Linked DNA regions of Homo sapiens. The protein of the gene in region 1 interacts with the protein of each later gene in a pairwise test. Each region holds a gene or a part of one and is shown on either strand. Other genes may lie near its edges. The genes, in order: GJA4, MS4A13 and OPRM1.

Region 1 (3,751 bases):
TGCCCTGGGTCGGGGGTGCGTCTTGGCCTTGCCGTGCCCTCATCCCCCGGCTGAGGCAGCGACACAGCAGGTGCACCAACTCCAGCAGGTTAAGCACCAGGGAGATGAGTCCAACCACCAACATGAAGATGATGAAGATGGTCTTCTCCGTGGGGCGAGAGACAAAGCAGTCCACGAGGTAGGGGCAGGGTGCTCGCTGGCACACAAACACGGGCTCCATGGTCCAGCCGTACAGGCGCCACTGGCCATAGAGGAAGCCTGCCTCTAGCACACTCTTGCAGAGCACACTGGCGACATAGGTGCCCATCAGTGCTCCGCGGATGCGCAGGCGACCATCTTCTGCCACCGAGATCTTGGCCATCTGACGCTCTACGGCCGCCAGCGCCCGCTCCACCTGTGGGTCCTTGGCCGGCAGTGCCCGCAGCTCCCCCTCCTTCTGCCGCAGCCGCTCTTCTCGCCGAGACAGGTAAATGACATGGCCCAGGTAGACCAGGGTGGGTGTGCTGACGAAGAGGAACTGCAGCACCCAGTAGCGGATGTGGGAGATGGGGAAGGCCTGGTCATAGCAGACGTTGGTGCAGCCTGGCTGGGCCGTGTTACACTCGAAATCTGATTGCTCGTCACCCCACACTGACTCGCCGGCCAGGCCCAGGATGAGGATGCGGAAGATGAAGAGCACCGTCAGCCAGATCTTACCCACCACGGTCGAGTGCTCCTGGACCTGGTCCAGCAACTTCTCCAGGAAGCCCCAGTCACCCATGGCTCCCGGGCCTCCGTCTGCAAGGAGACAGAGCACGTCAGTGTGTCAGCATGGCATCCTTCTCGTTCGCCCAGCAACAAGCCTGCAGGGAGGTCTGCCACGCCCGTTCTACCTACAAAGAAACCCAGGCTCAGGAAGGGGAAGGACTGGCCTGGAGGCTCCCACTCAGCAGTGCAGGCAGGACCCAACCCAGATTTTTGGATGATGGCTGCCCACCTCTTTGTATGGTCTCATTCTGCTTTGGCTAAGGTCCCTGCCTAATCAGACATCTATGTCCCTCTTGTCCCCGAGCCACTGCCCCAGGATGGACACAGGCCAAGGAAATCTGGGTGGAGTTGAGGCTCCTTTGCCTATGGGAACAGAATTTGAGGAACTTATCCAAAGTTGTGCAGCTGGGCTAAGCCCTTCCTCCCTTTTGCCCAAGGCTGGCTACCCCCAGACAGTGGGAGCTAGTGATGATGGTAGAGGTGTTATCTTCTGCTTCTTAGGGGGCTCAAAGCCTCAGGTCCCTGCTCCCCGCCTCATATCTTACCCAGCTGGCTTCACTCTAATCTTTGAGCCTGCAGGGGCTGGGTAGTGGAAGGGGTTTTAGGAGCTGAAGGCAGCATCATCCTTTAGCTCCACCGGTCAGCAATAATGACCACCTGCCACTTGAGGAGGGACATTTGGTCCTGTCTTCTTCCTCCACCTCCACTCCCACCCCCTTCCACCTCCAAAGCTGATGCTGGCAAATTCTAGACTCTTGAAAGGAATTGTCATTGCAGGGTGAGGCACAGGCCACAAAGTTCCCAAGGGGGAGGTGCCTCTTCCCAAGTGCAAAGCTGTTTAGAGCCAGGCTCTGGAAGCGGCCCTGGGTTCAAATCTTGCCTTTTAGTAACTGCGGCCCCTTGGATAAGGAACAACCTCTGGGCCCCTCAGTCTCCTCCACGATAGAGTGGAAACAATAGTATTCCTCCCGCCTCGGGTTGTTACAAGGATTCCATGGAAAGAGGGTGGGAGCCTGGCCAAGGCCACCTGGGTGAGCGCGGCTCTGTCGCGGCGGGCGTTCCGCAGCAACCCCCGTCCCGGCATCGGAGGACCCAAGACTCCTCCCGGCCTCCCGCGAGCAGGTGGCGCCCCTGGTCCCTTCCTAGCCCCCGACTCACCGCCTGCCTGCCGGGCGGCCCAGGTGGAGGTGGGGACGATGGCCGGAGTGACGCCCGCGGGAGCCCTGCTGGACCGCACGAGCGGCGGGGGCGCCTTAAATAGCGCAGAGGGGCGGGGTGGGGGCAGGAAACGCGACGGGGAGGGCGGCGGGCGCTGGAGAGAGGGCGGGGGCGGGGACTGGGAGGTGCAGACTCCCTAAACCCACTCCGGGGAGGTGGGCCTGTGTGATTTGCGGTGGGGAGGGGCAAGAGGGGCTGACCTACCCTTCCTCTCCTCTGTTCTCTCTCCACCAGGTATTCCAGACAGTAAACTCTCCTGTCGTTTCTTTGGCCAGGGAAGGAGAGTTCTCCCAGGCCAGGATCTCTCAGGGTGGCTGGATTTGAAGGGGTTGCAGTAAGGGCTGTGGATCTGGGCAACTGGCCTGCGGGGCTGTGAGGGGTGGGCGGATGGGGATGGAGTGTGGGGACCACTCATTTGCTAGGTGGCTGGCCCTAGTGTGCCAGGATGAGGCGATCAAGGCTAATTACGGCGCGGGAAGCTCCAATGGGGGACAGGGGTTGTAATCCACACCTCCAGCATACATGGTGGAGCAGGCGTCTCTATCCACGCCCAGCCCACGTTCTTCCAGAATTCTCAAACATCCCCATGTCTGGGCAGGCTACACAATCAGAGGCCATTAAGCAATTCCCATGGACTCCTTGAGACTGGGGGTGGGGGAACCACCTGACCTTTAGCTTGGACCCCGTTCTTATGCCTCTAAATGGTGGCTGGGTGGTGTGGGGGACATCCATAGGAATGAAAGGGCTATGCGGAGCCTGCCTTCATGCATTCAGGCATCACAGGTGGATGAGCATCAGTGAGCATCTGCTGTGCTGCAGACGCTGCTTGGGGACCTGGGGATACCCTGAGGAACCAGCCAAACTTGGTCTCTGGCCTCCTCCCTCACTGGCTGGTGCAGGGATTGAGCATATCAGCCCTTGGATAACGGTAAGATAATAAATGTGGAAAGTTCTCCTGAGAGGTACTGGGTGATTCCCAGGGGACTTGGTTAGGAACATTTCCTGGAGGAGAGGAAATGCTTTTCCCCCTCCATTAGCCAAGTGGAAGGGAAGAGCATTCTAGGTAGAGGGGCGGCATGAGTGTGGCTCGAGGGCCTGGAGCTGTGGGGTTCTGAGACTGTGGCCACTGCCCTCGGAGTGCTGAGACGTTGTTGGTGGCTGAGCCCAGGAGCTGAGACTTTGCTGTTGACTCCTGTACCCTTAGGCAAGTTACTCAAATCCCTGTGCCTCAATTTCTTCCTCTACAGAATGAGAATAGTGATAGTATCTACTTTGTGGGGTTGATGGCATACAGTGTGATCAAAGCACATAGTGTAATAGTGGTACATAAAGTTTTTCAAGTGAGTGGTGGCTAAAAACATTGTGATACTGTAACAAAAAGGGTCTGTGGGTTGTTCTTAGAGGGTGGTAGGGGCTGGCGCAGCTGAGGAAAGGGAAGGTGGCAGGGGGCTGTTGAGGCCTGGGGCTGGTGGCACAGAAGTCCCTGTTCCTCCACAGCAAGATTTAGTCCTTGGATTCCCTGGGCCCCAGGGCCGGGTCCCTGAGGGTTCTGTCTTCAGGACCAGCAGGAGGACATCTTTGGGGACACGCAGACCTGAGAACTTCAGGGCTAGCTGCCCTGAGGGATCCGGCTGGGCTGGCTTCCCCTCTAGGCCTCTCCCTCAGGGCCAGGCTGAACTGAGTCTCCTGGATTTCTGAAGCTAACAACTGCCCCACTTAATTCTGACCCTTGAGGGCATGAGAACCGAGGCCCCTGGAGGCTGGTTCTCACCACGCCCCCACTGCA
Region 2 (3,751 bases), on another chromosome or scaffold:
AAACCATGACTGATTGATTGCCTCTTCATTGCTGAAGAATACAGTTTTTAACAACCAAAGGATAAAAAATTAAAGTGAATTCTGAATTTCCAAATCCAGTTTATAGGTACTGAGAAAATCAATGTTGCTTTTACTGATCTGTGATATTAGCAGAAGAAATAAGATGTACCAAGGAACCATGCCTGTCTCATAGTTTGGCTCACTCTTCTATTTTTGCCTATGTTTATACTGAAAACACATTTTGGCCCCAGTCCAAAAAAATGACCAAATCCATGATAATTTCCAGAGACTGTTGGCCAAAGCTTAAATGAAGAAATATGTCACTTCTCTCACAAATAATCAATCAGTCTTGGCAGCAAGTTACAATAGCGGTCCATCTCATCAGAACTGGCTCTTACTACTATGGATTCTAAAAAATCCATAACCCTGAGGTTGAAGACACAGTTCCTCTTTCTACAGCAAAGAGAATGCTTAATATTATCGGAGCCCTGTCTGCTCATAGACAAGGAACTCACAAAATAATAATAATGCTAGAAACTGAAGTGGTATATTACTTAAGAATAAAACTATTACCTTCAATGACATACTGACCAATACAGAATGTAAAGACTTTAGAAGAGGCTGGGCTTTTTTTTTTTGTTTTTTTTTCCTTTGATTTGAGGGGACTTTGGAGTCTCAATGTAAGGAAGCTAGCTGTGAGACTAAAAATTAAGATTCTCAATTTACAGTTGATTTTTCAGGCTATAAAAGATCTTGATGGCTTTTAGACACACTCATGATTTAGCTTTTTGCAAATAAAGGTGTTGAAAGCATAGAAAATTTCCTTATGAAAGAAAAATCTGTCTTGTTTTCTGCGTGTTTTACTCACTGGCTATCATTGACTAAAAATTTACACTACAAGCTGGAATTTTAACTATTCCACAATGTCAATTTAAATTTTCCATGAATAAATGAGAAATGCCATTGAGTGGCTGTTCTCCAGGTACTTTAAACGCCTCAGTAAGTCATGATAGCTGCCTAAGAGGATGGTCTGTACTGCTCATCTAAAGCACCTCTTCATAAACACTGTTTTAACTACTGTCTACACCTCAAACAGAAAACTAACACCACGTGTCACCTAAAAGGTAAACCCGCCTCAGCAAGTGGATCAAAAAGTCATTCTGGTGTCTTGTTAAGTATTACTTTCATCACTAATTTCCTTCTTCAGTTACTTATGTTTAAAGAAAAAAAAAGTGAGCCATTGATTTAGCCACTTCACTCGAAAGTGCACCTTCCAAAGGTGCTCTTGTGGTCAAAATTTTTCTTTGAAGACAGAAAAGGTGAAGGGCGGACTTCTCCTCAGTGATCCTGGTCACTGTGCAGCAGGTGGGTGTATAAGAAATGCACCAATATGGGCAATCTCAGAATAGAGGTTTGCAGAAACCGTTCCTAGAGGCACCAAAACGTAGTTAACCGGGTGTCTGACCACATGGCTGCCAGGAGCCTAGTGAGTCTGCGCACACGCACTACCTCCGCCCCGGCAGTTCCTGAGTGGGTGCGCAGGCGCAAGAGGAGCACACCGTTGCCATTGCAGACCGTCACTCCCTGAGGAGCCTGAGAGCCGGCCGGGTGCTGGGCTCCTGGCTATCCCTGTGATGGTAGCTCAGCGAGATCTGGGGACCTGGCGCTGAGCGCGTTGCCAGCCGGGATCTTCCTCTTCATCTAGGCCTGGGCGCTGGCGTGAGAACTCGGACTGGGTCCTGGACGAGCGCCCCCCGAAACTCCTTGGAACCTTGAACAAGTAAAATGCAGGGTAGTGATGTCGCTTTGCTGGAGTGCTTTCGTGTCAGAAGCCATAAAGGGACACGGAGGCTGATTACGGTGTTCCTCTCCCTATCATACTCTGTAAACAGTAGGCACTATTTACTACTCAGAGATGATAGCTGTAAAATGCCGATATGTTTTAGTCATAGAGAGAGACTTTTCAGTTATGAAGGCTGTTATTCAGAACAGATGGATGAAAGTTGATGCCTCTAATATTAAGGCCTAGAAAGAAGAAAGAAGGCTATTGCTTCTGAATTTGGAGAGGTGGTGACTGAACAATAAGGAAAGGATCAAACTTACGTATTTTCTTCTAAGAAAATAATGTATATGTGCTTTGTACTGTTTTGTAGAAGTTTGCTAATAAAGACATCACCAAAGGTTAAAGAGAAAATCATCTAGAGGAAATGCTGGCAGTATGGCATGTGTTCTTTAACAAATCTCTACAGCAGATTCTCTCGTTTTAGGGGTAAGATTTCACTTTGACTAACTAAATTTAAGATCATGAACTATTTCATTTTTTTAACGGATATATTGGATCTAAAGGGGGACAGACTTGGTTAAATCAAAAGGGTAAAAGTTTTTTTTTTTTCAAATGTTGATTGTCTTCTACAAATTTTGACTGATCTCATGTTCCTTCATGTGCTGAGATATGGGGATACAGACTAAACCAACACACACAGGATAATAGAGAAATCCAAGTAAGGTTTAAAAGGAAAAAAGAGAGTACTGCACTTACATTTATGCAGTAGGATGATTATAAATTTGTCTCTTCTATTAAGTTATAAACATGTGAAGTTACAGTTTAGCTTTCTTAATGAACACCAAGGAATTATGAGTATCATGCTTTTTCACATCCAAAGGGGAGAAAACATTTCCACTCGTGAACTTTTCTTCTGAATTTGAATGTTGCATAGATCAATTATCTAAGTCGCCTATACGACTGTTCAGCAGAGGTTCTTAACCTCTTTGGGGTCACAGACCATTTTGGCATAGAATGAAAACTCTGAATCTTCTTTCCAGAATTATGTACATGTCACAATCCTTCGCATTTTTTTTCCCTGGGGGCAGGGGGTAGGCGGGTCTGACCTCCTGGAACTCATATTGATTCTAGATTAAGAATCATTTTTAAATAAGAAAACCTATCTTGTCCTTCTCCACACACTGGCAGTTCTTAACAAGCATTGGCTAATTAGCTATCTCATGGTTTTATATAAAACAATAGTCAATCATTTAAAAAGAGATAGTACTTTTCAAGCTCACTTACTTTTTTAACAGTTGGGAAAGTCACATGGAATCACTATTCTTGACACCAGTATGCTTATATAAGAGGTATTTGCTGGATGCCTTCTCTATTCTGGGCACCATATTAGAGGCTGGTGATAAAACAATAAAAAAAAAAAAACTCCAGGCCCTAAGGGATTTTGCAGTCTAGTGGGAGATATTTCTCCAGGCAAATCCAAAGAATTTCTGGAAAATTACCATTCTTGCAAATTTGATGCAAGGGGAAACGTTAAATTCTAAATCTATAAAAATGCATGATCGTTACCAAAAAAGAGACTTTTTCTTAAAAAAAAAACAAAACTTCTCCAAAATGTATTTTTTAAAGTTAGCCAATTGCACTTATATATTTCATAGACTGCCTGCTTTGCAAAGAGCTGGAACTCTTAAAACATTAAATAGCTTTCTGTTTAAGTTTATATGAAAATAAAATTTATGTGTCCTCTGTCATTTTTAAAGAGTAATCAAAAATGTGATTAAATATATGAAATATCAGTTCACATATAAATTCAGAAATAAATTTGCTGGGATTATAATTATCTTCTTACAAATTAGAGTTGAGTAATAATTCTCCCCTATTCAAAATCCTTCCCCTTTCCAATGGGAAAACCGAGTTCAAGCGAGTCCATTTTGGATATTTTCTGTATTGCTGTGTTGGATTATGCCCCAC
Region 3 (3,751 bases), on another chromosome or scaffold:
AGGAATCTTCGAAGGATCACCAGGATGGTGCTGGTGGTGGTGGCTGTGTTCATCGTCTGCTGGACTCCCATTCACATTTACGTCATCATTAAAGCCTTGGTTACAATCCCAGAAACTACGTTCCAGACTGTTTCTTGGCACTTCTGCATTGCTCTAGGTTACACAAACAGCTGCCTCAACCCAGTCCTTTATGCATTTCTGGATGAAAACTTCAAACGATGCTTCAGAGAGTTCTGTATCCCAACCTCTTCCAACATTGAGCAACAAAACTCCACTCGAATTCGTCAGAACACTAGAGACCACCCCTCCACGGCCAATACAGTGGATAGAACTAATCATCAGGTACGCAGTCTCTAGAATTAGGTATATCTACTGGGGATGACATAAAAATTATAAGGCTTTGTGCTAAACTAGGAGTTTAATCCATTATAGAGGATGAGAATGGAGGGAAGAGGGGAAGCAAATTGTGGTTCTAGTGTTAGAGAAGAGGTTTGTTATATAAACTGTGTTCTTTATATTTGACTGTACATATTCATTTAGGTATAAAGATACACCAATGAGAAATCCATGAAACTATTCAAAATAACTATTTTTATGGCCTTTACTTCTATGCAAAATTTATGACTTTAGCACATTATAGAAATAATTCTGATCTAGAATCCTTTTCATTTTCCCCAGAATTATTATATAATTCATAGATGTTGCTGCAATACCCCTCTTATTTCTCAAAAGCCAGTCTTGCTCTGGTTCTGTGATTAAAGAGAGAGGGTGAGTGCCTTGCCCACTGTGGTCATGGATGCAAGATATTCACAGAAAATTAGCATCATGGAAAAGGAGAAAAGATTAAAAAATGACCATCCCTAACTTTTCTTAAGCTATTGGTTTGCTACCTGAACTCTAGCACAAATATCAAACATATTAGACTGAATAATATATTATTAATATGTGAATATTAATCTAATAAATTTTATTAGATTAAACAATTTTTAACAGACCTCATGCTTGTTGGAGATAATAGGGTGAATAGCGACTAGCTTTTGGAAGGTGTATTTCTGTGCCCAGACCTACACAGAAAATTCAAGACTTATACACACTATTATAATCATATGGGAAATCAACAAGGAGGAAAGAGAAAAGGCTGTCTCCAAGTTAGTATTACTTGATTAAGCCACTGGTTGGCTAAATTTGACCTCTGATCTATAAAATCAATCAAATACATGGCTTAATTTTTAATATTAATCTAAGTAAGTAAATTTTAAATAATGATGCCAGCATCCAAAAATCACAGCCTGTATAATTTTTTTAACAGTGAATTCAAATTCAAACTTCCTATGAAGTAAAGGCTGGAGTCAGAATCTTGGCTAAAGTTCCTAGAGTCAGGCGTCAGGACTGTGAGGACAGATGGCTCCGGAGAAATGAATAGCAAGTCAAATGATTGAGGAGCTAGGGGAGGCCTTTGCCACCACAGGGTGCAGTGGCTTCCTCCTGCTGTCTCTTGACCACACCCTGTCTCTCACTGTCCCCTCTTTACCCCACTCTGCCATCCAGCCCAGCCCAGGCTCAACCTTTCTAATTGACCAGAGGACTAATGTAATATGGCCCAGATACATCCGTCATGGGCGACATTAATCCTCATACCCCTGGTATTCAGTGATGCTCAAGGGAACACAGGAACTCACACCCCCTAGAGAGCATGAGGTAATGATGGCAGACCCACTTCCAGACAAAGGGAAATTAACTTATTATGTCTCAGTTCTAATTCCATTTCAGAAATGAATGCCAGAAAGAAATGGTTTTGACTCTGCTTCTTTTCTCTACGTTTTTTTCCACATCAAGACTGCTAAACCTACTCCTTTTACTAGGAGCTACTTTTAAAAAGTAATTGCAAAAACAGCGATTACTTTTGCACCAACCTAATGCTAAGCAGCCCTCCTATTCAGTGGCTGCTAGAATCTTGTAAGTAACTTTAAAAGGGCAGGGATTTAAATAGATTTTCACCAACCTGGGGATAACATGTTAAAGATTGCAACTTAAAATGCCTAGTCCTCAGCTAAGGATAAAATATTTTGCTTTGAAGTAAAATATTTCCATTGGAGCAAAATAATGGCCATTATAAAGTACTGACTCTTTCTCCTTTAGTGCCTACCTATACCTTCCCTGTCTTGCTGGGCTCTAGAGCAAGGCTGCTTGGTTGTGTACCCTGGACCACTGCAAGGACCTCTTGTCAGATATGACCTCCCAGCTATCCTTCACTCGTCCTGCCTTCGTGGAAATACTGCTCCCAGCCCGTCTGGTGGAGCATTTCTCCTGAGTTAAGCATGATTATTCTTCAGTTGCCCGACACTGCCCTTGACTCCCTTCCAAATTCGGCATTTTCACATCAGTATGGCTATTGTACAGCCAGATAGAAGAGAAAAGAAGCTAATTGGAGGAGTTCTGTTCCAAGTAACTAAAAGGTTTGCTTTAAAAATACATCCAATTAGGCCTTATCTTCATCGCTGCCTCTATGAAGCAGTATCAGTGTAAGATAACAGCAGAAACACATTAGCCCTCGAATTGGTTGCTGTCCCAAAATGCCCAACTGAGAGAACTGGACACAGAAGAGAGGCTGCCAGGAAAAGAGGGAAAGATGCTCTGACATATTTAAAAATTAAGATAAATCAAAGCTCCCTTTGGCTAATCTCCACTGATGTGTCATCATTAGAATTAAAGCAGTTACAACCAGACAACTGGAACAATACATAAGCTGCTAGTGATAGTTTCAATAATATATCAACATAATAAAATGACTTGAAGGAGAAATTGGAGACTTGATGGCTGTGTCTATAGGACATGTTAAGTTAGTTGTACAAATCCAGAATGTGATAAACAGGTGTTTGGTCGTTGTTTCACATCATGACCCATCATGTTGGAAAACAAAGCTAATAGGATTTGCATTTAACTTTTCAACTACTTGTTTGAAGTTTATATTGGTTGTGGATGTTTATGTTCTGCCTTATGTATTTGTACTTTCTTTGAGGAATATATTATACTCTATATGTCACATTTCAAGCACATTAGTCAACTTCATATTCTGCAGATCAGAGATCCAATATCAAACCTTCCCAGGGTGTCTGTATTCTGACAACTGTCCACTGAGGCAATTTCCATACAGCGCAAAGTGGAGTGGCGATTTGGCAGTTATCAAGGTAATTTGATAAGCCAATGAGAAAATTCTGTGCCCAAAATAAGCTTAGAGTCATACTTACACAGTTAAGAGCTGCTCAGTCAGCTTTTGTTACATTACAAATCATTCCAAAATGTAGTGGCTAGAAGCAACCATTTATTTAGTTTACAATTCTGTAGAACAGCCATTGGAGCTGGGCTTGGCTGGACCGTTCTTCCAGTATTGGCTGGGCTTGCTCGGAGGGCAGCTGCCCGATGGGCGGGTGGTCAGCTAGCTGATCTACATGGCCTCAGCAAGAATGACTAGCTCCACATGGACTCTTACCGTCTAGCATGTTACCCCAGCCTTGTTCTCATGGTGGTCACAGATTCCAAGAGAAAGAAAGAGAGAGAGAAAAGAGGAAAGCGTCTTTTGGCATAGAGTAGGAATTGGCATACGGTCAACTCTGTGGTTTTATAGGTCAAATAAAGTCATCCTGCCAACCTAGATTCAAAGGGTGAGAAATTAGACTCCATCTCTTGCTGATAGGATCTGCAGTCACATTGCAAAAGGATAGGTATATAGGGAGCGAATAATTATGACCAC

What was found.
Region 2: the proteins of GJA4 (region 1) and MS4A13 interact in binary tests that used the Homo sapiens proteins (3 or more experiments, as listed by UniProt).
Region 3: the proteins of GJA4 (region 1) and OPRM1 interact in binary tests that used the Homo sapiens proteins (3 or more experiments, as listed by UniProt).

What each region holds. Positions count from the first base shown.
Region 1 is NC_000001.11:34,791,223-34,794,973, reverse strand, and holds the start of GJA4 (gap junction alpha-4 protein), read right to left. Parts: upstream 1,976-3,751; 5' UTR 1,906-1,975; exon of another isoform or gene 1,628-1,905; intron 873-1,627; exon of another isoform or gene 778-872; 5' UTR 761-777; coding exon 1-760. UniProt on the Homo sapiens protein: One gap junction consists of a cluster of closely packed pairs of transmembrane channels, the connexons, through which materials of low MW diffuse from one cell to a neighboring cell.
Region 2 is NC_000011.10:60,513,816-60,517,566, forward strand, and holds the start of MS4A13 (membrane-spanning 4-domains subfamily A member 13), read left to right. Parts: upstream 1-1,576; 5' UTR 1,577-1,792; intron 1,793-2,153; 5' UTR 2,154-2,269; intron 2,270-3,751. UniProt on the Homo sapiens protein: May be involved in signal transduction as a component of a multimeric receptor complex.
Region 3 is NC_000006.12:154,091,131-154,094,881, forward strand, and holds part of OPRM1 (mu-type opioid receptor), read left to right. Parts: coding exon 1-342; coding exon of another isoform or gene 343-357; exon of another isoform or gene 358-678; coding exon of another isoform or gene 679-759; exon of another isoform or gene 760-827; intron 828-2,139; coding exon of another isoform or gene 2,140-2,316; exon of another isoform or gene 2,317-2,390; intron 2,391-3,079; exon of another isoform or gene 3,080-3,188; intron 3,189-3,751. UniProt on the Homo sapiens protein: Receptor for endogenous opioids such as beta-endorphin and endomorphin. Receptor for natural and synthetic opioids including morphine, heroin, DAMGO, fentanyl, etorphine, buprenorphin and methadone.